2 separate regions of the Homo sapiens genome follow, and region 2 is linked to region 1. The links come from fine-mapping of genetic effects on gene expression. A gene starts in region 1. The other region holds a variant in brackets. All regions are shown on one strand. Distances are between the middles of the regions.

Region 1 (12,728 bases):
TTTCAAGATTTAGAGCTCCTTTTAGCAGTTCTTGAAGTGCTGGCTTGGTAGTGGTGAGTTCTCTCAGCATTTGTTTGTCTGGAAAATACTGCATCTTTCTTTCATTTATGAAGCTTAGTTTCACTGGATACAAAATTCTTGATTGATAATTGTTTTGTTTAAGGAGGCTAAAAATAGGACACCAATCCCTTCTCACTTGTAGGGTTTCTGCTGAGAAGTTTGCTGTTACTCTGTTTTCCTTTATAGTTACCTGATACTTTCGCCTCACAGCTCTTAAGATTTGTTCCTTCATCTTGACTTTAGATAACCGGATGCATATGTGCCTAGGCGATGATCTTTTTGCGATGAATTTCCCAGATGTTCTTTGAGCTTCTTGATTTTGAATGTCTAGATCTTTAGCAAGGCCAGGGAAGTTTTCCTCAAGTATTCCCTCAAATATGTTTTCCAAACTTTTAGATTTCTCTTCTTCCTGGGGAACACCAATTATTCTCAGGTTTGGATGTTTAACATAGTCCTAAACTTTGTGGAGGCTTTGTTCATTTTTTTTTTTTTTCGAGATGGAGTCTTGATCTTTAGTCCAGGTTGGAGTGCAATGGCACGATCTCGGCTCACTGCAGCCTCTGCCTCCTGGGTTCAAGTGGTTCTTCTGTCTCAGCCTCCCGAGTAGCTGGGATACAGGCACGCGCCACCTCGCCCAGCAAATTTTTGTATTTTTAGTAGAGATGGAGTTTCACCATGTTGGCCAGGCTGGTCTCGAACTCCTGACCTCAGGTGATCTGCCCACCTCCGCCTCCCAAAGTGTTAGGATTACAGGCATGAGCCACCATGCCCGGCTGGCTTTGTTCATTTGTTAAAATTCTTTTATCTTTGTCTTTGATGGATTGGGTTAATTAGAAAGTCTTGTCTTCAAGCTCTGAAGTTCTTTCTTCTGCTTGTTCGGTTCTATTGCTGAGACTTTCCAGTGCATTTTGCATTTCTCTAAGTGTGTCCTTGATTTCCAGAAGTTGTGATTGTTTTTTGTTTATGCTATTTCTTTCACTGAAGATTTTTCCTTTCATATCCAGTATCATGTTTTGGTTTCTTTACATTGGACTTTACCTTTCTCTGGTGCGTCCTTGATTAGCTTAATAATTCTTCTGAATTCTTTTTCTGGGAATTTAGAAGTTTCATCTTGGTGTGGATCCATTGCTGGTGAGCTAGTGTGATCTTTGGGGCTGCGAAAGAACCTTGTTTTGTCATATTACCAGAATTGTTTTTCTGGTTTCTTCTCATTTGGGTAGACTATGTCAGAGGGAAGATCTGGGACTCCAGGGCTGCTGTTCAGATTCTTTTGTCCCACTAGGTGCTCCCTTTATGTGGTTTTCTCCCTCTTCCCCTAGGAATAGGGCTTCCTGAGAGCTGAACTGCAGTGATTGCTTTTGCCCTTCTGAGTCTAGCCACTCAGTGGAGCTACCAGTCTCTGGGCTGGTACTAGGGAGTGTCTGCAAAGAGTCCTATGATGTGATCTGTCTTCAGGTCTTTCAGCTGTGGATACCAGCACCTGCTCCGGTGGAGGGAGCAGGGGAGTGCAGTGGACTCTGAAGATCCTTGGTTGTGTTTTTGTTTAATGCGCTGGTTTTGTGTGGTTGGCCTCCAGCCAGGAGGTGGTGTTTTCAGGAGTGCATCAGCTACAGGTTGAATAGGGAGGAGGAAAACTTGCCCCAGGGTTACATGGTTAAGTATTCCTAATTTTCTTTCTTTCTTTAATGTTTCTCTGCAATATTTTATAGTTTTCAATATACAGGTCTTTCACATCCTTTGTCAGACTTATCCCTAAGTATTTTATGCTACTGTTTTTATGCTATTTTATGTCATTGTTAATAATATTGTTTTTAAATTCTAATGTTTATTCATTGCTAGTATATAGAAATACAATTGAAATTTGTATATTGATCTTATATCCTACAGTCTTGCTGAACTTACTATTAGTCTTAGTAAATTTTTGTGTGGATTTTCTGTGAAGATGATCCCGATGTCTGTGAATAAAGGCAATTTTACTTCTTCCTTTCCAATCTGGATTCCTTTCACTTATTTTTCTTGCCTGACTACATCAGCTAGAATTTCCTGTACAGCGTTGAAAAGAGATGGTGAGAGCCAACACCCTTGTCTTGTTCCTGACTTTAGGGGAAAAGCGTTTCAGTCTTTCACCATTAAGTATGATGTTATCTGTAGGTTTTTTCATAGATGTCCTTTATCAGGTTGAGGAAGGTCTCTTCTGCTGTTAGTTGGCTGAGAGCTTTTTTTTTTTTTAATCAGGAACGGATGTTGGATGTTATCAAAGGCTTTTTCATGTCTTCTGACATGACCATATGATTTTTCCTTTATAGTCTGTTAATATTGAGAATTCCAATGATTGATTTTAGAATATCAGACAAACACTTTCTTTGTGATCACTCGAGCTCTGTGTATTTCCGATACTAGCAACCAAGGATTTTGGACAAATACAATCTAGTTATTGAGATCTGATCATAGTTTCTCTGCCCAGCTTTATATTTCAAAGCTTAATTGATTTTGGAAGAAAGTTCTAGGCGACATATGTAAGAAAGGGGAGAAACCCATAAACTGCTGGTGATGTGGAAAGTATTTCTTACCAAGTACTTGCTATGTGTCAAGTGGCTTAGGGGTTGGGTGCGAAAATACACACTCCTGAGATGTGGTGCCCAGACAGGGGCTGTTGCAAAGAGACCCCAGGACCCCAGGGTTATTTAAAGAACAGAGCCTTCCACACCCCTTCCCTCTCTCGATAGCAGGGCACACCTTTACATCTGGACTTCTGTTGCTGTTATTATTGTTTTTAATCAAACCTGCATAAACCTGGTGAATCGAAGTTACTTCAGAGAAGAATGACAGTCAGTGAATCCAGAGAGAGATGGGTTTGATGCTTTCTTTTCTCTGGCCACGTGACAGTTCATGGAGTCTTCAGAAATTTCTAATCTTATCAAATTGTTTTCTTTACTTAGTCATTTATTCAGTAAACATAACCAAGTGTGTATAATGTGCCAGCACTCTCCTAGGCCCTTGTCTCTGTTTCCAAGAATTGTTTGAATTGCTGCATTACAAGTTCAAGCATAACTGGGAGGTAATCTAGCACAACTCCTCATTTCACAGATGAGAAAACTGAGAATCTGAGAAGAGAAAAACATTGCCCTAGACTCTGCAGTCAGAGAATCACTACAACCACCACGTGATCCATTCACAGGTGAGTTGGATTTCCCTTTTTCTTCCCATGTCCCCCCTTAATGATAGAGGGCATGGCTCTGGTGTCCCAGGGTTTGAGTCAAATTCCTCTTCCACAAATGACCATCTGTGCAACCTTGATGAACACAGTGCTTACTTCTGGCGCTATTGCCCTGAGTATAGAATGTGGTTAATAATAACGCCTATGTCAAAGGGTTGTGGTGAGGCCACTGGTTCTTGCCTACTTCCTCCTGCTTCTAGCTTTCTGATGCATACATAGGTGGTCACCATGTCCCACAGAGAAAGAAACAGGAACCATGCTCACGCATTAAATCCTTGTGACCCAGTGGGAAATTTTGTATCTTTGTTGACATTACATTTTTATCTATAAAGTGAGATTCTTCATGAGACATCTGTGAGACATAGTCAATATTTTAAGATTTTATAACTCTCAAAGATATAACTTATTGAGTCATCTTGGGCAAGTCATTAGCATTTCTCAGCTCACTTTTCCCACTTATTAGTGAAGGATAATAATTTTTTCCTGGCAGAATTATTTTAAGAATTAAATACTTACTTGTGTATGTTATGTTATACAAATGCCATCCTAGTTGTAAAAACAAAGATAATACGTATATTAAAGGAAGAACCATTCTGGAATCTGGAATTTAAAAAATATTTATTAATTTTTTAAAGTAATACATTCAATAGTTAAAGAAAATGATATAGAAGTTCCTAAAGTGTGAAATAATGACACCTTGCCCAAATCTTTCTACCCTAGACTCACTGCTGAAAGCAATCCTTTTAACTATTTCTGGTTTTAATTTTTCTGATCATTTTCTTCATACCATTAAAATTGTTCTTAATTTTTTTATATGTCAAGACTAGATATGGCAAGTGATGTATTACAATGATGGATAAGGATTTACCTCACTTTTTATCACATTCCCATCCCAATATGAGACTTTTATTTCTTTTATTAATTACCTTTGTGAATTCAAAGTATACATGTATATCTTTACTTCTTATTTTATCAACTATAGGCAATATCTTTCTCTTCACTTTGGAAGATGAGGGAACTTGCCCCCTATACGTTTCTTTGTTTCTTTTTAACTTCCATCTCTTCTCCTTTGTTATCTACTCTTTTACTTTGACATTGTTATGGATGACAACTTTTACAATTGATTCTGCAGCCGGGATGATATATTCTGCTATTTCTTTTTGGTTGATTCTAAAAGTTGAAAATCATTGCACAGTGTTTACATTATGATTTTGATATAATTATTATATAAGTCTTTTCTGAAGTTAAGCATGTATCATGACTATATTTCCCTTTGTTGTGGGATATTTTGGCCCTTTTTTTCTTTCCTTCTGTCTTTTGTGTGTGTGTGTTTCTGTTTAGCTTCTGGACACTGGGACTTCCATTTCCTCTCTGATGGTGTCAGCAACACAATGCAAGCACCACATTCATTGTTTCCTAGGGAAGCTAAACAGTTCCATTCCTGGACCTATACCATGGGTGGGTAGAGAGGCTGCACACAGGGACCAACTAGCCATCTGGCTGCTCTTGCAGATGTACTTACCCTGCTCAGCCTACAGGTTGCTTTTGGGTGCCCTAAATTTTTTATAGCCACTTCTTGCACACCTCCATTAGATGAATGCTTTCATATAAATCTTTAACATGCCTTAGAATTAATTTTAGTTTGTGTTATGACTCTGTAGTTGTTAGCTATTGCTGCATAACAAATTAGTCCAAAACTTAGTGACTCAAAACACTAATAATAATTTATTTTCTCTTGTTTTTTTAACGGTCTGGAATTCAGCCAGGGTGGACACAGTGGGAAGGGCTTGTCTCTACTCATGGTGTTTGGGGCAGACTCAAAGGCTGGGGGCTGAAATCATCGGAAGGCCTGACTGAGGGTAGAGGATCTGCTTCCAAAATGACTCACTCACATGACAAATTAGTTGGTTCTGGCAAGTTGGCCTCCTTTCCAAGAAGTGCCTCTCCACACATGTGCTTCTCTGCAGGGTTGCTTGAGTGTCCTCATGACATGGCTGGTGGTTCCCAAAAAAGCAAGTGATCCAAGAGCAACATTCAGGAATAAGTTCAATCCTTTCTATGACCTAGCCTCAGAACTCACAAAGCATCACTCTCAATACGCCCTATTCATCAGAAGCCAGGCAGTAATTCCAGCACACTTTCTAGGCAGAGGAATTAGGTACACCTGTTGAAGGGAAGCAGGTCATAATTAGAGGATATATTTTTGAACCACCACAGAATCTAACTTAGGTTCGTACAAATATATAAACAGCTGTCCAATACCACATATTGAATAGTCTATCATTACTATATCAGTCTGAGCCATGACTATTTGCATTTACTAAGAATGTGTGTTATTACCATTGAAGACCTTCCAGTGGGACAAGATGTGAAAGCAGAAGACAGTGGTATTGATGATCCTGACCCTGTATAGGCCTAGGCTAATGTGTGTTTGTGTCTTAATATTTGACAAAAAGTTTAAAATGTAAAAAATAAACAACTTCAAAAGTAGGAAAAAAGCTTATAGAATAAGGATATGAAGAATGAAAATATTTTTGTATAGCTGTACAATGTGTTTGTGTATTCAAGCTGTTATTAAAAGAGTCAAAAAATTTAAAAATTCTTAAGGTAGAAAAGTTACAGTAAGCTAAAGTGAATATATTATTGAAGGAAAGAAAATTTTTAAAAATAAATTGAGTGTGGGCCTAGTGTACAGGGTTTTAAAGTCTACAGTAGTGTACAGTAATGTCCTAGGCCTTCGTATTTACTCACCACTCACTTACTGACTCACCCAGAGCAACTTTCAGTCCCGTAAGCTCCAAGCTTACGGTAGGTGCCCTAGGCAGGTGCACCAGTTTCAATCTTTCATACCATATTTTTACTGTATCTTTTCTATGTTTAGATACACAAATACTTACCATTGTGTTACAGTTGCCTACAGTGTTCAGTACCACACTGTACAGGTTTGTAGTCTAGAAGCACAGCCTACAGCCTGGGTGTGTAGTAGGCTGTGCTGTTTAGGTTTGGGTAAGTACACTCTATATTGTTTGCACAATGATGCAATTGCCTGACGATGCATTTCTCAGAACGTCTGCTCACTGTTACGCAACGGAGGACTGTGAATTGGGAGTTTATTTTGTTTTTCAGTCTGTACTGGCAGCGAATCATACATAGCTTAGTTTATCAGACAAGCTGCTTTTCTTGAGCAAAGAAAGAACTAGGAGAGAAACGGGGCTTTGGAACCCTGATGCGGCAATGCTGAAAGAGGAGAAATATCCCAAGGAAGGGAAAGGTGTGTTGCAGAACGATGAAAAATAGGCGGCTTCTCACAGCTGTTCTCAGGGGACGAGACGGGGTGGGATGCAGCTCCGCCGGTGCCTAACACTAAGGGCCCTCATCCTGCCGATTCAGTTGTGTCGGGACCGCCAGTGCTGTCTCCTCGTCAGATGCTGCTTCTGGTCTCCCCGCAGAAGATGCCACTGGAGTTGCCTTTTCAAGGATGGGGACATTTGAAGGCCCTGGACGCTCAGCTCTGAGGCTGGCTGGGATCTCACTAGCACCCCCTGGTGGAGGCCGGAGCCAGGCTGACGCGGGAAAGTGGGGCACGGAAGCGCTGCGGATTGGACCGGCGGCAGCTAGGCCGAAACGCCTGTATTTAAAGGGATAGTAACTCGGACTCGTTCTGCAATATCCCCACAAGGGCCTGACTGAGCGAGCGAGCATGGACGGCCGCGGGGCTTTCTGGACAGTGGCCATTCCCAGAGCCAGGCAGGAAGGCCTCGGGAGGCTGGGGCTCCCGTTCCCGGTGAAGCGGACGCCGCCAGCGCCCCAGAACCCAGGAGGAAGCACACAGGCCCCACAGAGAGTGGTTGGCAAGAGTCACTCGGGGATTAGGATGCCGGCCAAATCGCGGAATTTGAGGCTGGAATCCAAGCTCAACAGGAAAGTAGTGAAATACAAATGGGGAAAACAGGGCTCTGGAGCGGGGAGGGAGCTGGTGCCGGCATTTCCCACCAACGCCGGTTTAGGAAGACGGGACCGATGCCGGCCGCCCCCTGCTGGAGGGGATGTGGCATCTCACGGGCTGCCAGGGAGCGGGGTTGGCTACTCCTGCAACCAGCGTGAAGAGGGTCTCAGGGGAGGCTGTGGTGGGATCCCCCACGTGCCCTTGTTCCTCTCACCGTTACCTCTGGATGCCTCGGGGCAAAGGCCTTCTTCCACCTATAGACAGAGTCTACGCAGGGGTCTTGGAACCCGGGCACACCAGTCCCCAGCTAACGAAATCCCCGAGTTGGGGGATTTGAGAGGGTCACGTTTGGCCCAAGAACCCGCAGTCCTCTTTGGTCTTCGGCCCTCTATTTCTAAGCGTGGGCTTCTGGCACGGCGGCTCTGGGCACAGCCCATGCTGCTTTCGGGCTGGGTGGTTTCAACGACGACAACAATTATCACAGTGACGGTGACCTTCACCCCAACAGGACTGCTGTGTGTGAAGCACTCAAGAGGGCCCCTACAACCAACCTGCCAGGAGTCGGCTCCTGAAAACAGGGTCGGAAAAGGTCAGTGCCCATCAGAATCGAGCTGTCGGCAAAAAGCTGGAGAGGTTAGGAGCTTTGTCTATCTCAAGGGTAACAAACTGCTTTGACCCTGAGGGCTCTGAAGACGACTTTCCCTCACCGCAGCTCTCAAGACAACAGGGATCAGACTCAGAAAGACACTGCCTGTATAAGGCTCTTGTTTGTCTTGTTTTTAATTCCTGCCCTCTGCCTCCAGATCTCAGTCCTCTATCTGTGAAACGGAATTCGGCCTTGCCTGTCCACGAAATGAAGACAAGGCATCTCGTGTGTGTTAAGATGAAACAAGATCTTAGCAAGAGAGTAATGATTTCTTTTTTAAAACATTTTTTACTGTAGTAAAATGTACTATAACGTAAAATTACCATTTCAATCATTTGTAAGTTCAGTGGCATTAAGTACATTCACATTGTCGGGCAGCTGTCAGAGGTGTTCGAACCAGAGCGACTCCATCTTGAACAGGTGCTGCGCAAAATGAGGCTGAGACCTGCTGGGCTGCATTCCCAGGAGGTTAGGCATTCTTCGTCACAGGATGAGTCAGTGGCTGCCAGGGAGGCAGGTTGGTTACCCCAGGAACCAATGAATTGCATCTCAGGGGAGGTTTTGCCAGATACAGGTCACAAAGACCCTGCTGATAAAACAAGATGCGGTAAAGAAGCTGGCCAAAACCTACCAAAACCAGATGGTGACAAAAGCAACCTCTGCTCGTCCTCACTGCTCATTATACACTAATTATAATGTATTAGCATGGCAAAAGACACTCCCGCTAGTGCCATGGCAGCTTACAAATGCCATGACAACATCTACTTAGTTAAATTTGCATACTATGAATATGAGTATGCAAATACCTGTTGGAGTCCCCGCTTTCAAAGCTTTGGGGTACACATCCAGAAACGGAATTGCTGGATCATAGGGTAAATCTATTTTGGAGGAATAGTCGTACTGTTTTCCACAGTGACTGTACCATTTTACATTCCCACAAAATTATTTCTTTCTATCTGCCTTCCCCCACTAGATAGAACACAGGGAAGTTACTTTTTCGTTTCTAAATCCCCAGCACCAGGAACAGTGTCTAGTTCATAACAGAGCTCTATAGAGAACTGTGGGGAAAGAAGTGCAATTTATATGCTGCTGCCTCTTCATTTGGCATCTCAGTACGTGGCACACAGAAAGTAGGCACTGAAGAAGGGTTGAAGGACCTAATGAGTACATAAATGAATGCAGTTACCATTGCTTTTTCCTTGGTCTAGACTGAGGACAGACATTTTTGTAAATTAAGCTACTTAGTTAAATGTAGACCTCTGGCCAGTTTTGCTCATCCAGAAGTTTCACTTTAATGCCACTTCAAAGATACTGTTTTCTGTAAATCAGATCATAATTGTGATGAGAATGATGTGGGGATGTGTCCTGGACTCTCCCCATCCCCCACCTCACAGCCTAATGTATAACGCACATTTTATTCAGGACCATTTTGGATGTGTAGGATCTGCTCCAGAACACAGGATAATGGGCCTCTTTTCTGGGGATGGTGTGGTTCCATCATTAGATAGCAGGTGTGTCATCTGCAGGTACTGGTCTCACTATTCAACCACTGGTTGAAAGATTGGTTCAAGATCAACTCTTTGAAAAATCAAAGTATTACTTTTACAAATGCTTTTTTGATATTTCTCAACCAATTAACCTTGAAAAGTTCACCATGAAGTTGAATTGCCTAAACTTATACATTGTATGGGCACTGAGATGCAATTTTTAGGGCTGTGTGGGCATCAGCGATGCCTGTTTTCAATACATTGTAGCTATGCTCAGTGTCATGGGCCTTGTAGGGCTGACCTCTTTTTGTCCAAGCATTGAAGCCAATCTAAAACTCTTTTCCAAAAAGAAAATGTTTTCTTTGCTAATAAGTCACCATCAACTGCAGCAGAGGCAGCTGTTTGGGCTTCACAATTTGCGGAAGCACATGCCAGCCTGGCTCTGTTTTGTGCTTGTTCACAGTATATGGCTTTGGCCTTGTTCAGCATCAGGGAGTAGCTGTTCCTTGGGTCATGCATGGAGTTGGATTTAACCCTGGCTTTCAGCTGGCCAGTCCTCATCAGGAGCTTGGGCAGGAGAAATAGTACTCTGGTGAATGGTCTGAAGACATTAGATCATAGATGACCTTGGCTGCAAGCAACTAAATCCAGACCACAACAGTTTATCCAAATAGGGTTAACCAAACAAGTACAATGTGTACCCAAATGATATCAGTGTCCCATGATCCTTCCATCATCCACTGGATGATTTCTTAATTCAAAGTCAAACAAAAACAAAAGCAGATTTGAAACATTCTCATCCATCCTTGAAACTGGATCACATGCCATGGTCTCGCTCTTTGAAGTGGTCAACTGAACAGCTGGATACATGGTCTGGAGCTGGGAGGAGGAGTGCCTTAGTCCATTCCTGCTGCTATGACAAAATAGCTTAGACTTGGTAATTTATAAATAATAGACATTTATTTCTCATTGTTCTGGTGGCTGGGAAGTCCAAGGTCAAGGTGCCGGCAGATTCAGTGTCTGGTAAGCTCTCTGTGTCCAGGATGACACCTTGTTGCTGCATCTTCTGAAGAGGACAAATGCTGTGTCCTCATATGGCAGAAGAGATGCAGGGCAAAAGGGCCAAGAAGCCCTCTTGAGCCTCTTTAATGAGGGCATTAATTCCATTCATGAGGGCAGAGCCCTCATGACTTTGGGCCTTAACCCAAAAGGCTCCACCTCTTAATACCAGCACAATGAGGTAAGTTTCACCATGAATTTTGGAGGGACATAAACATTCAAACCGCGGCAAAGAGTCTGGACCAGGGGATGACTCTGTGAAGTGCGTGCTTGTCCACTGCCAAAAGAAAGGGATAAGATGAGGAATGCGAAGCTGAGAAGGGGAGGGTTCGAGATCAGCACTGCATTGAGAGAAAGGGGAGTTGGGCAGAGGAGTGTAGTAGCAATGGTGGGCATGGCGATGGCTCAAATGAAGAAGGTGATTGCAGATTTCCCTGTTGCATGCTTGGCTCCAGTGGTGTTCAGAGCTCAACCACATGCTCAGTGAGAGTAGAGAGTTGAGTTTACCCAGGCCTGTAGTTCTGCATGACAACTGCAGTGAAAAGGGATAGGGGAGGGTGCTGAGCATATTGGCAAGAGTGTTTTCAGAGTCATGGGGCCTGGAATGCAAGCTGGATATGGAGGCAAGTGAAGAGAGGCTGGTGGGTTGGGAGATGCAGACTGAGAGACCTTCTGAGGTAGGAGCATTTGGACGAGCATGCTGGGAGGACAAGAAGCTGTGGTCAGAGGTGGATGTTCAAGTTTTGGAAGGTGGAACAGCTAGGGGTGATGACAAGGTGTAGGGTGTGAATTTGAGAGTGGACAGTTGGGGCAGCATAGCACAGAAGGTCACTGAAGGAGGAAATTGAGGAGCCCAGAGCCCAGGGTGGGGGATGGGAGTTGTCTATATGTGTGTCTGTTAGGGGTCGAGTTTGGCTGCATATAACAGACAACCCAAATAGCAACAGCTTAAAAGAGACAAGAGTATATTTTTTTTCTGATATAGCAAAAAGTGCAGAAGTAGACAGCTCAGGTCTGGCATGGTGACTCCAAGATGTCATCAGCAACCCAGAGTTCATTGATCTTTTTGCTTCCCAGGGGTCTGGCACTCTTCCTCATGCTTACGAGATGGCTGCTGGAATTCCAGGAATCACATGCAAATTCTAGTCAGGAGCAAAGAGGAAGAGACACAGTGAAAAGGGGTATACAGCGGCAGAAGGAAGCTCCTCAAATGAACTCTGCTAGAACTCTAGCCAGTAGCTTCTCCTTCTATCACAGTGGCCAGAACTGTGACAAGTGACCATCCTTAGGGGAAAAAAGATGCTGAGAAATGTGAATTTTGTTGCCACCTTACATTTTCAAAGGAGTTCCATTCGTAAGTACAGAACGCTCAGAGAAGAGGCAGCAGATCTAGGATATGGAGCAGCAGCTCTTAAGGGCACAGTGGGAAGGTTTCAAGACTGAGGAGGATCTTGGATTTGGGTAGGGGAAGGCAGTTCACAGTATTGTGGAGGAAATGCTGTGAAAGAGAAAGTGGAAGGCATGGAAGCTTAAACTTTTAATATGACTGGTGAATACAAGGATGAAGGGCAAAGGGAATTCAGACTCATGGTGGTCAGATTAAGACCTTCAGCGGCTCTGTCTCCCAGCCCCACATACCCACTTCCATGTTCTGCTCTTTACTGAAGCTGAAAGTCTGCAACCTTCATTCTCTGACTCCCTTACATTTTCTTAGGCTTCTTGCTAGCTTCTGCCAAAAAGAGGCCCTGGCAGGAGATTAGATGGCAGGAGGCAGAGGTAAGGATTCCATGTTAACAGGTGCTGGAAGTTGCTGGTGTGGCAATGAGAACTGGGCCCCGGTCAAGGCAGCACTACTTTGGTAGATCCAGAATCAACCATGATAACCGTGACAGTGTCTTCAACAGTGCAGCAGTAGACACAGGCCCCTGGTGCTGGAATCCAATACAGGGACAGGAGCAGCACGGAGTCACGGAACACCGTCTTGCCTTCATGTCACTTTACCATTTCTTCTTTCTCCCTCTTACTCTACCAGCTACCTGTGGAGATGTTGAACCTTTTATCTGTCGCTGTCTGCTTAGGAACAGAAGAAAAGGCAGCTGATTGCTTGACTCAGCTTTCAGCTTGATTTTTTTCCTTTGGCAGAGTGAATTGGGGTCCCAGGTGTTCATTTTCCTTTTGTAGTACCTTTCCTCAGCATGCAATTAATACAAAAAGAACAATAAACCTTAACAAAGTTTGGCTTGTATTATTCCAGACTTTCCTCTTGGATTTTATGTACACTTATCTGAATCCATGCAGATCATGTCATGTGTG
Region 2 (12,728 bases), 180 kb before region 1:
GGAGGTGGAGGTTGCAGTGAGCTGAGATTGCGCCACTGCACTGCAGCCTGGGTGACAGAGCGAGACTCAAAAAAAAAAAAAAAAAAAGAGAGAGAGGGAAGGAAGGAAGGAAAGAAGGAACGAAAGAGAAAGAAAGAAAAGAAAAGAAAGGAGAAAAGAAAAGAAAAGAACCCAATGAATTGGTCCTCAAAAAGTAACTACCTACTGTGGTAGAGAGGAAGAGACACAATGGCAAATATATAGATACATAAATGTACTCTGTCAGCATCAAGTGTCAACTCTGTGCCAGGAACTGTTCTAACCCCTGGGGATTTAGCACTGAACACGGCAGACGAAAATTCCGTCCTCCTGAAGCTTACGTGGGGGAGAGGCAGATAAGAGATACAGTAAGTTAGAAGGTGACAGGTGACGTGGAGGAAAATGAAGCAGGAGAGGGGCTGGAGTTTGTAGGGAGGGAGGCCCCCAGGTGAGTCTGGATGCAGGAAAGCAGTTGTCCTCCCGACTAATTTGACAGCAGAGGGTCTTCTCCTCAGTTTTCTCACTTTCTCACCAAGTGGCCTCTCAGGTTATCCGGCAAAGAGACTTTCAACCCTGGGCCAGGATGAGTGTGGAAGCGGAGTGGAGCGGGGAAGGGAAGATGAAGTTCAGGTCCTCTCATCCTATAATCCATGTGGGGATCTAGAGGCATCATTGTGGCAGGGAGGAGAGATGACTTTATGACAATAAGACATAGGCTTCACATTTGAGCGGGGTAGGTATTGATCCAGGGATATGAAGATGGCTAAGTCATGTCCCTTGAGAATTCCCAGTGTAGTGGGGAACCACTTGTGAAGACATTTGCTTGTTTCATTTTATCCAACAGGAGCTTTTCCACACACTTCTTTAAAGAATGCAGTTTGGTCTTACTCTGTCGCCCAGTCTGGAGTGTATTGGGCCGATTACAGCTCACTGCAACCTTGACTTCCCAGGCTCAGGTGATCCTCCCACCTCAGCCTTCCAAGTAGCTGGGATCACAGCTACCATACCCAGCTATTTTTTTTTTTTCTTGTAGAGACAGGATTTTGCCATCTTGCCCAGTCTGGTCTTGAACTCTTGGACGCAAGCAATCCTCCTGTGTTGGCCTCCCAAAGTGCTGGGATTACAGGCATGAGCCATCGCACCTGGCAGTTTGGTAGCATTTTGACTTAAATTTCTGTCTGTGGACAAATAGCATTTGAAACGTCTATGAAAATGATAAGATAAAACATGAGAAGAAAACAGTTTGTTGATAGTAAAATCTCAAAAATTTTGCCGGTTAGGTTAAGAACAATAGGGCAAAAACTGTATATGTTAAGTTTCTTGGAAGGGATTCCTTCCTTTGAGGGAAAAGCCTGTTGATTCTTACGTTTTCTTCTCTACGAAATTAGGTTAAGGATCGGCTGAAAGCATAAAATGCAGCTTAGAAGTTGCCCGCTTCCCCTTCTTCCCCATCTACACCCATGCAACTGTGGGACCTCTGCCCTTGGCTAGGAGAGCTTTTGGCACTGTGTCTTGCTGCTGGCGCCCAGACTCAATTTTCCTGCATCCGGCTTACTGTGTTTTCCTCTTCTAGTTCCTAAGTGGCTCTCCAGAACCTTGACTGGGTTTGTCTCTGGTCTACACTTCTCCTATCCCTCTCCTTCCCAATTTACTAGGTGAAAGGCACCCGGTACCCGCTTTGTAATGCACCCCTACTGCTCCCGACAACACCTCTCCACTGTCATGCTTAATTGTCTACATTTCATTTGTCAGAGGTCCGACGTTCACTTTTTAAAATGCAATGAATCATTAACATGCTAATAAGTGATTTAATATCTATTAATGAGGATTCGCAATATAAAACTGATTTAATGTCTCAACTCACTGCTTCCGTTTTCTCATAAAAGGAAACAGCTAAGTACTACCTAGGAGAAATGATACCCACGTGCATGCATCTTGCTCTTTCCTTTAATGCTTCCTGGGGTTCTATCTTTTCTCTTAGCAATGCACTGATACATTTATGGTGAGGCACAAGTAAGAAAGAGAAGAAAAAAGGAATCACCTTAGGAATCCTTGAGATAACCATATTTGCTTTGTTTTCAACTCCACACACAGCCTATTTCCTGCCCTGGGTTATTTTCCTCAGAGGAGCTGTGGAGATGACTAGACTTACACATAGGTCCACAGCTCCCACAAAGTCTTCACCAGCAAACCCTCCGAGTTCCTCACTCCCACAGCTCCCACAAAGTCTTCACCAGCAAACCCTCCGAGTTCCTCACTCTCATTCCTCTAGCACAAGTTGTGCAATAGCCTCATTTTTACATCTTGCCCCTGAAGAAGGGGGAAGAATTACACCTTGACAGTGACTCAAAAAAGACAGCAGATGCTGACGGGGTTCTTTTGATTAACAGGAGTTATAGAACTATGTCTAAATAGTTCCGATTTGATTTGAACATTATATTTTATCAGCAAATAACATGTGTTTCATTGTAGAAGTAACTAAAACAAAGCATGAAAACATGTGGTTCTACAATATTGGTTTTTTTGTTTTTTGTTTTTTGTTTTTTTGAGACAGGAGTCTCACTCTGTCACCCAGGCTGGAGTGCAGTGGAGTGATCTTGGCTCATTGTAACCTCTGTCTCCTGGGTTCAAGGAATTCTCCTGCCGCAGCCTCCCGAGTAGCTGGGATTACAGGCGCCCACCACCATGCCCAGCTCATTTTTTGTATTTTTAATAGAGATAGGGTTTCACCATGTTGGCCAGGCTGGTCTCAAACTCCTGACCTCAAGGGATCCTCCCACCTCGGCCTCCCAAAGTGCTGGGATTACAGGTGTGAGCCACTGTTCCCAGCCTGGTTCCCCAATATTCTTTTGGCTTGTTTAATTCTGAGTAAGAGAGTCCAAAATAGGGTTCAGGACATTCTTTTCCCGAGATATCCCCGGAGTGAAAATGAGTGTTGGATGATCACTATTTTGGGTACTAATTGTTTGACCAGTATTGAACAGCTGAGCTCCAGGGGTAGAAAGAGATCTAAGGCTTGTCCAGTGAGGATTCCCAAAGTAGTGGGGAAGCAGATACAAAAATCAGTTAAGTTGTGATAGAGTAGTAGGTGTTGCAATAAAGGTATACCCACAGAACAGAGAGGGCCGAGGCTAGGGAAGCTTGAGCAGGATTCAGACTTTCATTAGGCACAGAGGCGAGAGAGCAGCTCATGGCAAGGGCCCAGAAGCTGCCCACTGTTGTGTCTGGAATCTAGTGGGAAAGGGCAAAAGGAAGTCCTGGAGCAGCAGGTTGCGAGCAGGCCATTGTGCCAAGGAGTCTGGTCTTGATCCTATAGGTAGAAGGTGGCTGGTAGAGTTTAATCAGCAGAAGAAAAAGAAATGAGAATGGGAATGTGAGTTAGGTGACAATTGGATGAAGATGGAAGCCTCATGTCAGGAAACCAATTCTGCAGTGGTCTCCTGGCAGAAGGTGAGGCAGACCTGAACTGAGCCTACCTCGGTTAGTGGCCAAGTCTGCTTTAAATTCATCCCTTCTGCCAGATGGTTTTAAAAATGCATGAGCCCATTACTGAAAAACAGAACGTCTTCGAAGAGAAAGGCAGACCGGGAAGCCCTGAGTGAGAAGTACCCAGTGAAAGGAAGGGCGTTTATCAATCCTCTCTCTTTGAACTAAATTCATTAGTGAAATCTGAGAAACTTTGGAGCTTTAATGAATTTGAAACTGGTGTTTCCCTTTATCTGCATCTAGTCCATTTTTAATTTGCGGTCATCTATTAGCTGATGAAAAAAGAAAAATGTCTTTCAGCAGTTGAAGACAGCTAATGAGAATCAGGCTCTCAGTGTGGGCGGTACTGCTGATGTTTGGTTTGTGAGAGATACAGGAATCAACTTGTTGAAGCTCTCTACTTGTCAGAGCACCTTTAAATAATCCAAGCCCAGAGTTGTTTCATCTTCAGGCAAGAGAAAGTGAAAATGGCTTCAAAGGTACAATATCTCAAATAAACACTATAAAATGCATCCACACTTGCCTTTGAAATTGTAGTGGTTCAAGCACACAGAGACAAGCAACAATGTTTATTTCCTGATACTAATGAGCTTGTCTGTCTTTGTCTATGATGATTGTTCTTAGAGACAAACAAATAAAAATGCGAATTATATCTGACTGTTCTAAGAAGAAAAGATTGCCAGACTATTGTATTTTTTGGCAGTTATATGCTTCAAAAAACTGATCGTTTTCTCAATTCCTAGGAAGCGGGCAGAGAAATCACATTCCTGTGGACCAATGCTCCTTAGTGGATGAGTTTTGTGGCATGGTGGTGATTTAGTTAGTAAGAAGCCCTGCCTGTTTTCTGGAGAGTACTATACTTGTCGAACCAGCTCCTAGGACAGTACAGGGTTGTGACTGGTGTTTTGGGGTTCTCTCTGCGCATAAGCCCTTTCCTTTTAATACAAACAGCAAGATCATCCTGTTCAGCAGTTGACAGATGACTGTGTGCACCAAAAGGCAACAACGATGAGGCAACTGATGCATTTGTAACTCAATGTCTCACTGAATTCCAGCTTTCTTTTCTCAAGGTGGTGAAACAGGAAGCAACATCCCATCAGGAAGAACCTGAGGGTGCCATCCAGTAGCTTCGCCTCACGTCACTGACTGCCCTCAGTCAGAAATCTTGACTCGCAACTTTGGAGGGTGGGTCTCTGAAGGAATTTCAGGTCTTACACAGAGATGAGTTGTGCTGCTCTCTGAGGAGAACGAAGCTGGTTGGAACGTTGGAAGCTGCTCTCTGACTACACTTCACAAGCAAGGGGCACCTTTTGTGGACTGACATTTCAGAAAGGTAGGCGCCATCCCATGGATGTGGTTAGTATTTGAGGACTTTCAAAACCAAGGTGGCCGTGATTCCGCGTGTGAGCTTGTGTGTGTATGTGTGCCTGGGTGCGTAACAGAGAGGGAGAGGAGATGGAGATTGGGGGAGAGGCGGACAAATGAAGAAATGTTCATTTTTGGTCTGATGTTTGGGAGAAATACAGAAAAGACAGACTTGGGGCCCTTTGCTTTGTAGAGTTTTGCTTGGAAGTGTTTAGTAGTAGAGGGTAAATTTCGAGTCCAAACTTCCACTCCTGACCTGCATTGCTCTCGGGCGAGTTTAAACTGATTCATTGAGGGTTAGGAAGAAAGGTCTGGGCAGTGAAATCACACACGGCTGAATGCTCAGCATAGCTTGGTTTATCAGGAAAGCCCTGAATCCAGGTGGAATGAAAGGGGTCAGCACAGATCTTTGCCAGGTGGCAAAGGCCATTTCAGACCATCCCAGAGTGCCTTAAGCTGAGAACAAGGTGGGACTTGCTCACCCCACAGTGGCAGGCCTTCCTAAGCTGCTTCTGTCTTGAGAGATGTAGTGCTCAATGTCATGCCAGGAGAAATTAGCTGTTCGGTTCTAAGGCTGCCAGTCTCATGCAGAAAAGTGAAACAAAATCAAACTACTTTTTCTGATCCAAGCAAATGTTTAGCAAGAATGTTCTGTTAAGCATTTTTATTTTTTTGAAACCTTTACACAAAACAAGGGAAATAAAGCTTTAGGGCTGACCAGATAATGAATTTTAATTTATTCATTAACCCACAATGTTCAAGTGCCTTCTCTACCTTAAGTGAGTGTTTGACTTTAAACTTCACATTTTCATTGCCTTCCCCCCTACAAGCCTTTTGTTTTTCTTAAAAGGGGTTTCCATTTATAATTTCTTCAGTAGAATTTCTGGATAAAAAGTTCTTTAAAGAGAAAATATGTATATGTTCAAAAAGGTAATAATTATGTGGCCCTCTCATTCACAATATTTCTGCCTTTTTCTAAAATATCAATCAAATTGATTTACATAAGTTTGAAGATCATTCTGGGCTAATAATAATCTACATTTACTAAGTCCTTGCTGTGTGTACGTGCATTTTCCCCTTTAGGGCTCATGATACGCCACTTTCAGACGAGGAATTGAGGCTTAGTGAGATTTACAGTGGTACAGTAGGGATGTGAGAAAGCCACAGCTTTATTGCATTTCTGCACACTAAGATATATGATTTCAGCTCATTCTATATTCCCATTCTATTCCATTAACCCCCTACAGGGTCCTTGTGTGGAGGGATTCCTGAAGCTATGATAATATTCAAATACTCGAATTTGGTGTCTTATAACAAAAGGCCAAAATCAATCAATCAATCTATCACCTGCTTCTGCTGTTGGAGGAAGGCTTGGTGTGGTGGACAGAACATTGACTAGAAAGACAGATCAAAATTCAAATTCCTGCATCCTGCTTACTAACTATGACCCTGGCAAGTCACTGAAATTCCTTTTTTATTTTTTTGAGATGGAGTCTTGCTCTGTCACTGAGGCTGCAGTGCAGTGGCATGATCTTGGCTCTCTGAAACCTCTGCCTCCTGGGTTCAAGCGATTCTCGTGCCTCAGCCTCCCAAGTAGCTGGGAGTATAGGCATGTGACACCACACCTAGCTAATTTTTTTGTAGTTTTAGTAGAGATGGGGGTTTCGCCATGTTGGTCAGTCTAGTCTCGATCTCCTGGCCTCAAGTGATCTGCCCACCTCAGCCTCCCAATGTACTAGGATTCCAGGCATAACCCACCACACCTGGCCTCAGTGCAATTCTTCAAATCTCAGTTTCCTTATTTATAAAATAATTATTATAACATCCATCAAACGAGGTTGTTTATTATAAGACATAAAAAGGCAGGGTATGTCAAATGCCTTCCATAGGACCTGACAGAGGGTAGGCCCTTGGTAAACAGTATTCATTTCCCCATTTTGCAGTGATTTCTTCATGCTCTTGACATGTTGGATCCTGTTCTAGGATTGGGGGTATCACCAGTGAACAAAGCAGACAAGTCCCTGCCCTCAGGGAGTTGCCTTTCCACTGGTACTTGTTCCTTATATCCTAGTGTACTTTCTTGGGAAATCACTTTGTGATTATCTTTCTTTGTGGAGCTGATCCAGCTTTCAAACAGCCTCTTAAAGTAATGAATGTCCTATGCCAAAAGTCCCCCAAAGCATAGTAAAATCAAGCAAAAAGCAAGAACATCAGATACTTCTTTTTCAAAAGTCAGTTTGTTGTGGTAGGCCAGGAAAGTTGTTTTTACACACACACACACACACACACACACACACACACAGTTTATGTAGGTTTTCCCTGGCCTCCACACCACAGCAGAAGCACTGCCAGGAGCTGGCAGAGTGCTCATGGGAGGAGGGTGCTGGGCTGGCTCCAAGGGAGCTCCCTCCGCTCACAGAGCAC[G/A]GAGTGTATCGTGGCAACTGTTCATTTATCTTGGGCCCCAAGCCATCCACACAAGAAGCTTGGACTTTCCAAGCCCTCCCCAACACGAATTTATGGGATGCGATGCAAAGATTGACCTGCAGGTGTACACCTTTATAAGGATGGATTTGGGACAAAAACGATTGACTTATGTTTTGGCAAAAAGCCTGCAGTCAAGTTCATCAAGTAGGCCAGCTGGCATCAAGAATGGTGTTTTGGCAATCTATCTCTATGTTTGAATCCAGAGAAACTGCAGATCATAGCAGAGAGATAGCAGAGGGGAACACAGAGAAGCTCTCTCTGGAATCAGATGCAGGTAGATTCTTCTTTCTCCTGGAAACACCTCAACACACAATACAACGATCTAATTGATCTTATACAGCCCGAGTTTATGGTTTTATTTACTGGATGGACCCAGGATGATTGAAAAAATCCTTGTGCCAACACTAGACAGACCAGACAGTTGGCAGTATGAAAGAAGGCATTCTAAAGTAGTGGGACTTACTTTCCTAAGTCCTGTGCAACAATCAAGCCCATCATTTTACAGCCATGCTGTATGTGCTGCCTTAAGATTTGTCCTTGTAGCTGGAATTTACAATGATGAAAACATAAATGAAGCTAAAAGTCTAATTAAAATAAATAAATTAGGGCTTATGTATAAAAACCCCAATTGGCAAGTGAACGGAGAGATTAAGAATCTTTGACCTTGTAACAAAACTGTAACAGCCACAATTCTCCACAGGGCTTTCTGTTGATGGTGGACAGATGTTCAATTGTAAATGGGCTTCAGTTAGATCACTTCCAAAGGTTGTTATTATCATAATTTCAAGGCTGAGAATTTCCATTAATAAATAGAAAATAGCTCTGATAAGAAGGAGATTTGGCTTGGATGTCCATGAAACAAATTTTACCTTTCCCAAATATGAGAATTTAAAATTTCTTCATCTGTGAGTATCTTCCTGCTACTTAAATATAAAATTAAAGGGTTCTGGTTATTTATTTTTTTGGCCTACCTGCCCACTGGAAAATCTGTGGAGATGATTTGTGCTGGTGGTGGATTATATGTTTCAATCTAATGGAAAGTTTCCTCTTTATTGTTTTCTGAGTTAAATATTTAGGAAATACCAGGAAACTAAGATATTTAACCAAAATTCCCAAATCTGTCTGCTCAGGATTGGTAAACACACACTCACATTCATACACATGTGTGTATGTGCATAATATGAAAACACAACCAAAAGATGCATACATTTCTCATTAATGGAAAAAGTGTAAAATTCACAGGTAAGGCATATATTTAGGTTATTTGGAGAGGTAAAATATTACATTAAGGAGCTTGAAACCACTTTTACTTACTATATTCAGGTTCTAAGATGAAGTACTTAGTGAAGAAAAATCATATGTGATAATCCATTTAATTCTCTGCTGGGATAAGGTCTATTTGTTTTATTTTGATTTCTTTGCCAGACATATTTTACTGGATAGTCAATAAATACTTGTTGATTAGATTGACCCTGACACAGGCTGAACAATAAACTAATCATTTCAAAATTTAAGCAAAAAATTCTGAAAACATTTTCTTCAATAATGAAGATTACTTGACATCATTTAATAACTAACTTGGCTTCAATTTCTTCCCCTCAAAGTTTGTTTTCTTGTTTGACATATGATTAAAAACTTTAAAAACATACAACATGCTGATGCTGAACAAATGTCAAATTCTGCAGATTAGCAATTTTCATTTGTAATGTTCACATCAGAGGATCATTACTATATTCCACTTTGGGTCAAAGTTACAGGGTTTCATAATGAGCTATTCCTATCCCATTAGCTGTAACTTGCTTTACCTGGCTTGATTCCAACAGAGATCCGCCTTATGTGGAATTCTGGACTATAACTAATTGTGTAAGAGTAAAACTTCAGAGCTTTTCTAGATGATGACTATAAAATCGTATGCAACTTGAATTTTCCTAAGTGGTTGTTGTGTAGATTACACTATTGCAGTGATTTTCAAACGTTTTTAACCATTACTGTTAGTAAGAAATACTTTTCAGATCTCAACTTAGGACATATATACACACACAATTCTGAAATAATAGTTTCATAAAACAATACTTATAGGTATTGTTTTCTATTTCATTTCATTACACTCTACAACATTTCTGGTCATAACCGACTAATTAATTTTGTGACCTACTGGTAGTGGTTCTCAATACTGTCTGAAAATTAAAATCAACTAGGGAACAATAGACCAATGGAATGGACTAAGATGCTAGAAAAAAAACCTCCACAAATTTGGACCTTTGATTTATGACAACATTGGTACTACAGGAAAGGACAGACATTTGAATGTCCATGTACAAATAAATGAGTCTTGATTCTCATCTTAAAATTCATACAGCTCTAAGTATTAATCTAGATGTGACAGGTAAAACAATATAACTTCTAGATCTTCACTGTCCAATATGGCAGCTGCTAGCCACATGTGGCTATTGAGTACCTGAAATACTAGAAAATTTAAAATTACATATGTTACTCCCAGTTTTCTTCCTACTGAACAGCATTGTTCTAGATGACAAAACAGAATATATGTATGACCTTGGGTAGACAGTGATTTCTTTTTTTTTTTTTTTTTTTTGAGATGGAGTCTTGCTCTGTTGCCCATGCTGGAGTGCAGTGGTGCAATCTCCGCTCACTGCAAGCTCCGCCTCCTAGGTTCCTGCCATTCTCCTGCCTCAGCCTCCCAAGGAGCTGGGACTACAGGCGCCCACCACCATGCCTGGCTAATTTTTTGTATTTTTAGTAGAGACAGGGTTTCACCGTGTTAGCCAGGATGGTCGCAATCTCCTGACCTTGTGATCTGCTTGCCTCAGCCTCCCAAAGTGCTGGGATTACAGGTGTGAGCCACTACACTTGGCGATTTCTTAAACAAGATACAATAAGTACTAACATGATGAAAAAGATCTGTAAATTGGTTATGTTAAAAATAAGGACTTCTGTTTCTCAAAGCATACCACTAAAAGAGTAAAAGACAAACTGCAGGAGAGGAGACATTTGCCATGCAAATAACATGTAAGGAGTCATGCATATAACATGACTTGTTATGCATGTAACAAACAAGGAGTCCTATCCAAAACAGAAACAAGGCAATTTTGAAAGATAGACCGCCACAACAGAAAAATGGGCAAGAGGTTTGAACAGGTACTTCACAGAAAAACATATTCAGACAGCCAAGAGACTTGAAACATACTCAACCTTGTTAGCTTTCTGGGGAATGCAGATTAAAACTGCAATGAAGTACCACTACACACCCACCAGAAAGGTGAAAATTTAAAAGACAGACAATAGAAATTTTGGCAAGGATATTAAACCACTGGAACTCTCATACGTCACTGGGAGGAGTGTAAATAGTCACAACAGCTTTGAAAAACTGTTCAGCAATATCTGTTAAACTGAATATACATATGCCTTATGACCTGGCGTTTCCACTCCCAGGTATATGTTCTACAGAAATGCATTCACGTATTTACCTAAAGCATGTTCAAGAATGTTCAAGAATGTTCATAAATGGCACCTTGAAGTGTTGTAATCCCAAACTCAAAACAACCCATATTTCCATCGACAACAGAATGGGAACACAGATCGTGATATAGTGATATAGTCATGGGATGGAATATTAAAAGTCAACGAAAATGAGTTTGCTACTGTTACATGCAACAACATAGATGCATCTCAGTTCTAAAAGTTGAGTGAAAGAATCCAGATGCCAGGAATGTGCTCAAAACAATCGTATTTACATAAAGTTCAAGAACAGGCAACACGGATCCATGGTGGTGACAGGGAGAGGCATGAGGAAGAGTCTGGGGTGCTGGTCATATTCTTTTGTGCTTTGTTTCTTTACCATCTGTATGTTATACTTCAATAATTATATTACAGTAACAATACAGCAGTGACAATACTGATACCAGGACTGCACCTTCAGAGATCTTGGTTTAGTTGATCTGGTTAGGTAGAAAGCATGGTCAAAAAATCTCTCCCAAGGAATTCACATGTAGAACCAGGGTTGGGAACCAGTGCACTAATGGTTTACAACTGGTCCTTTGAAAACCCATGTGCTATGACAAACTGTAATTGTTACACCAGGCTGTGCTAGGCCCTTATTATCTCTGTTCAAGTTACACTGACTTGACGACATAATTCATATTGAGAAATGTTAGCAACATAAGGAGTCACAAAGTTAACTGACCTAGAAAGCCGGTCAGGTGCCTGAAAACAGTTGGCCAGGTTGGTAAGCGTGTGTTCCATTTAAGGGCTCCAGTGATTCTTGCCAGTCTTCTGAGTTTCTGAGTGAAGCTGCAAATCTGGATTTCTATGTGCAAATTCTTGAATTTTCAGTGTTGGCTCAAATTGTTTTAAAGCCCCATGCACCAGTCCAAACTGATTGGTAGACCCAAATTTGCCAGCACCAAGCTCTCCCGTTGGTTTGAAACTCTGACTTAAGTTTTAGACCTATTATAGAAGGACGCTTATGGGCACAGTTGTGTAATATATTAATTATGTTTCTCTTTTTCTGCTTCTTTAGGGATGTTGTGAAACAAAAGCTGACATTTATATATATATACATATATACAGTATTTGAGTTCCTCAGTAGAAAGCTATCATATATACTCAGGTAATTATCTTTATTTTATTTTATTTTACCTCTACTGTGTTTTCTTAACTATAATCTTGGGAAATTAACATCTGTGACTCAGAAGTTGATATCTGGCATTGTTTTGCATATTCTGGGGACAAGTGGAGTTTGGGCAAAGCCAGTACCATGCTATTCTTTATGAAATACTATAGATTTGTATTCTTTCCTTTTGAAAGCGGAGATGCAGGAGAAAGCTTCATGTGACAGCAGCAGGTAGCAAAGAGCCATCAGGGGGTGGCATTTGCTGTCTGTGCTCTGGTCTTCCACCCCCATAACACCTGCTGTTCTGATGGGAAGGAAGGAAGAGCTGGCTGTGCTGGGCAGGTCTCTAGCTTCCAGCGTCTTACCTGTAAGGAGAAACTTTCAAAACCACATTCCTTCAAAATCATAAAATATGACCCCAAATGATAAAAAATCATCATTTGTACGAGGAAGAGTCATTCATGAAGCATGTTCGCAAATATTGACTTGATGAAAGGCAAAGTCAGGTAACGTAGAGGGGAGGAGTTGCACTTTTACCGTTAATGCCTAAATTTGAGTCTGGCTCTGTATCACCTTGAGCAGTCACTTTATCTCTCTAAACTTCATTGTTCACCTGCAAATTGGAAGCATGCATAATTATTATTGTTGTAAGGATTCAATGAGTGTGGGTGCAACATTGTAAGCTGTGGTATGTACAGTTGTTCGTTATAATTTTAATCATCTTATTTACTTTTTGTAACGG

Which allele goes with the higher level. Positions count from the first base shown, and alleles are read on the strand shown. Sizes are in standard deviations (SD) of each study's normalised expression.
With allele A in place of G in region 2, the expression in skeletal muscle of the gene that starts at base 6,402 in region 1 is higher (small effect, 0.26 SD a copy in GTEx).

The links.
Region 2: its variant is fine-mapped to the expression of SPATA41 in skeletal muscle (GTEx, PIP 0.98).

What each region holds. Positions count from the first base shown.
Region 1 is chr15:100,344,392-100,357,119 of GRCh38, reverse strand. It overlaps SPATA41 (spermatogenesis associated 41), which reads left to right and starts at 6,402. Exons shown (of 2, transcript NR_028139.1): 1 at 6,402-8,386; 2 at 11,493-12,663. LOC105371021 (a long non-coding RNA gene) reads right to left here and starts at 7,514. Exons shown (of 3, transcript XR_007064777.1): 1 at 7,438-7,514; 2 at 6,175-6,745; 3 at 4,976-5,441. RefSeq lists an enhancer at 6,975-7,234.
Region 2 is chr15:100,520,922-100,533,649 of GRCh38, reverse strand. CERS3 (ceramide synthase 3) reads left to right here and starts at 4,700. Exons shown (of 12, transcript NM_001378789.1): 1 at 4,700-4,837; 2 at 11,894-11,983. The variant G/A (reference allele first, on the strand shown) is at 7,294.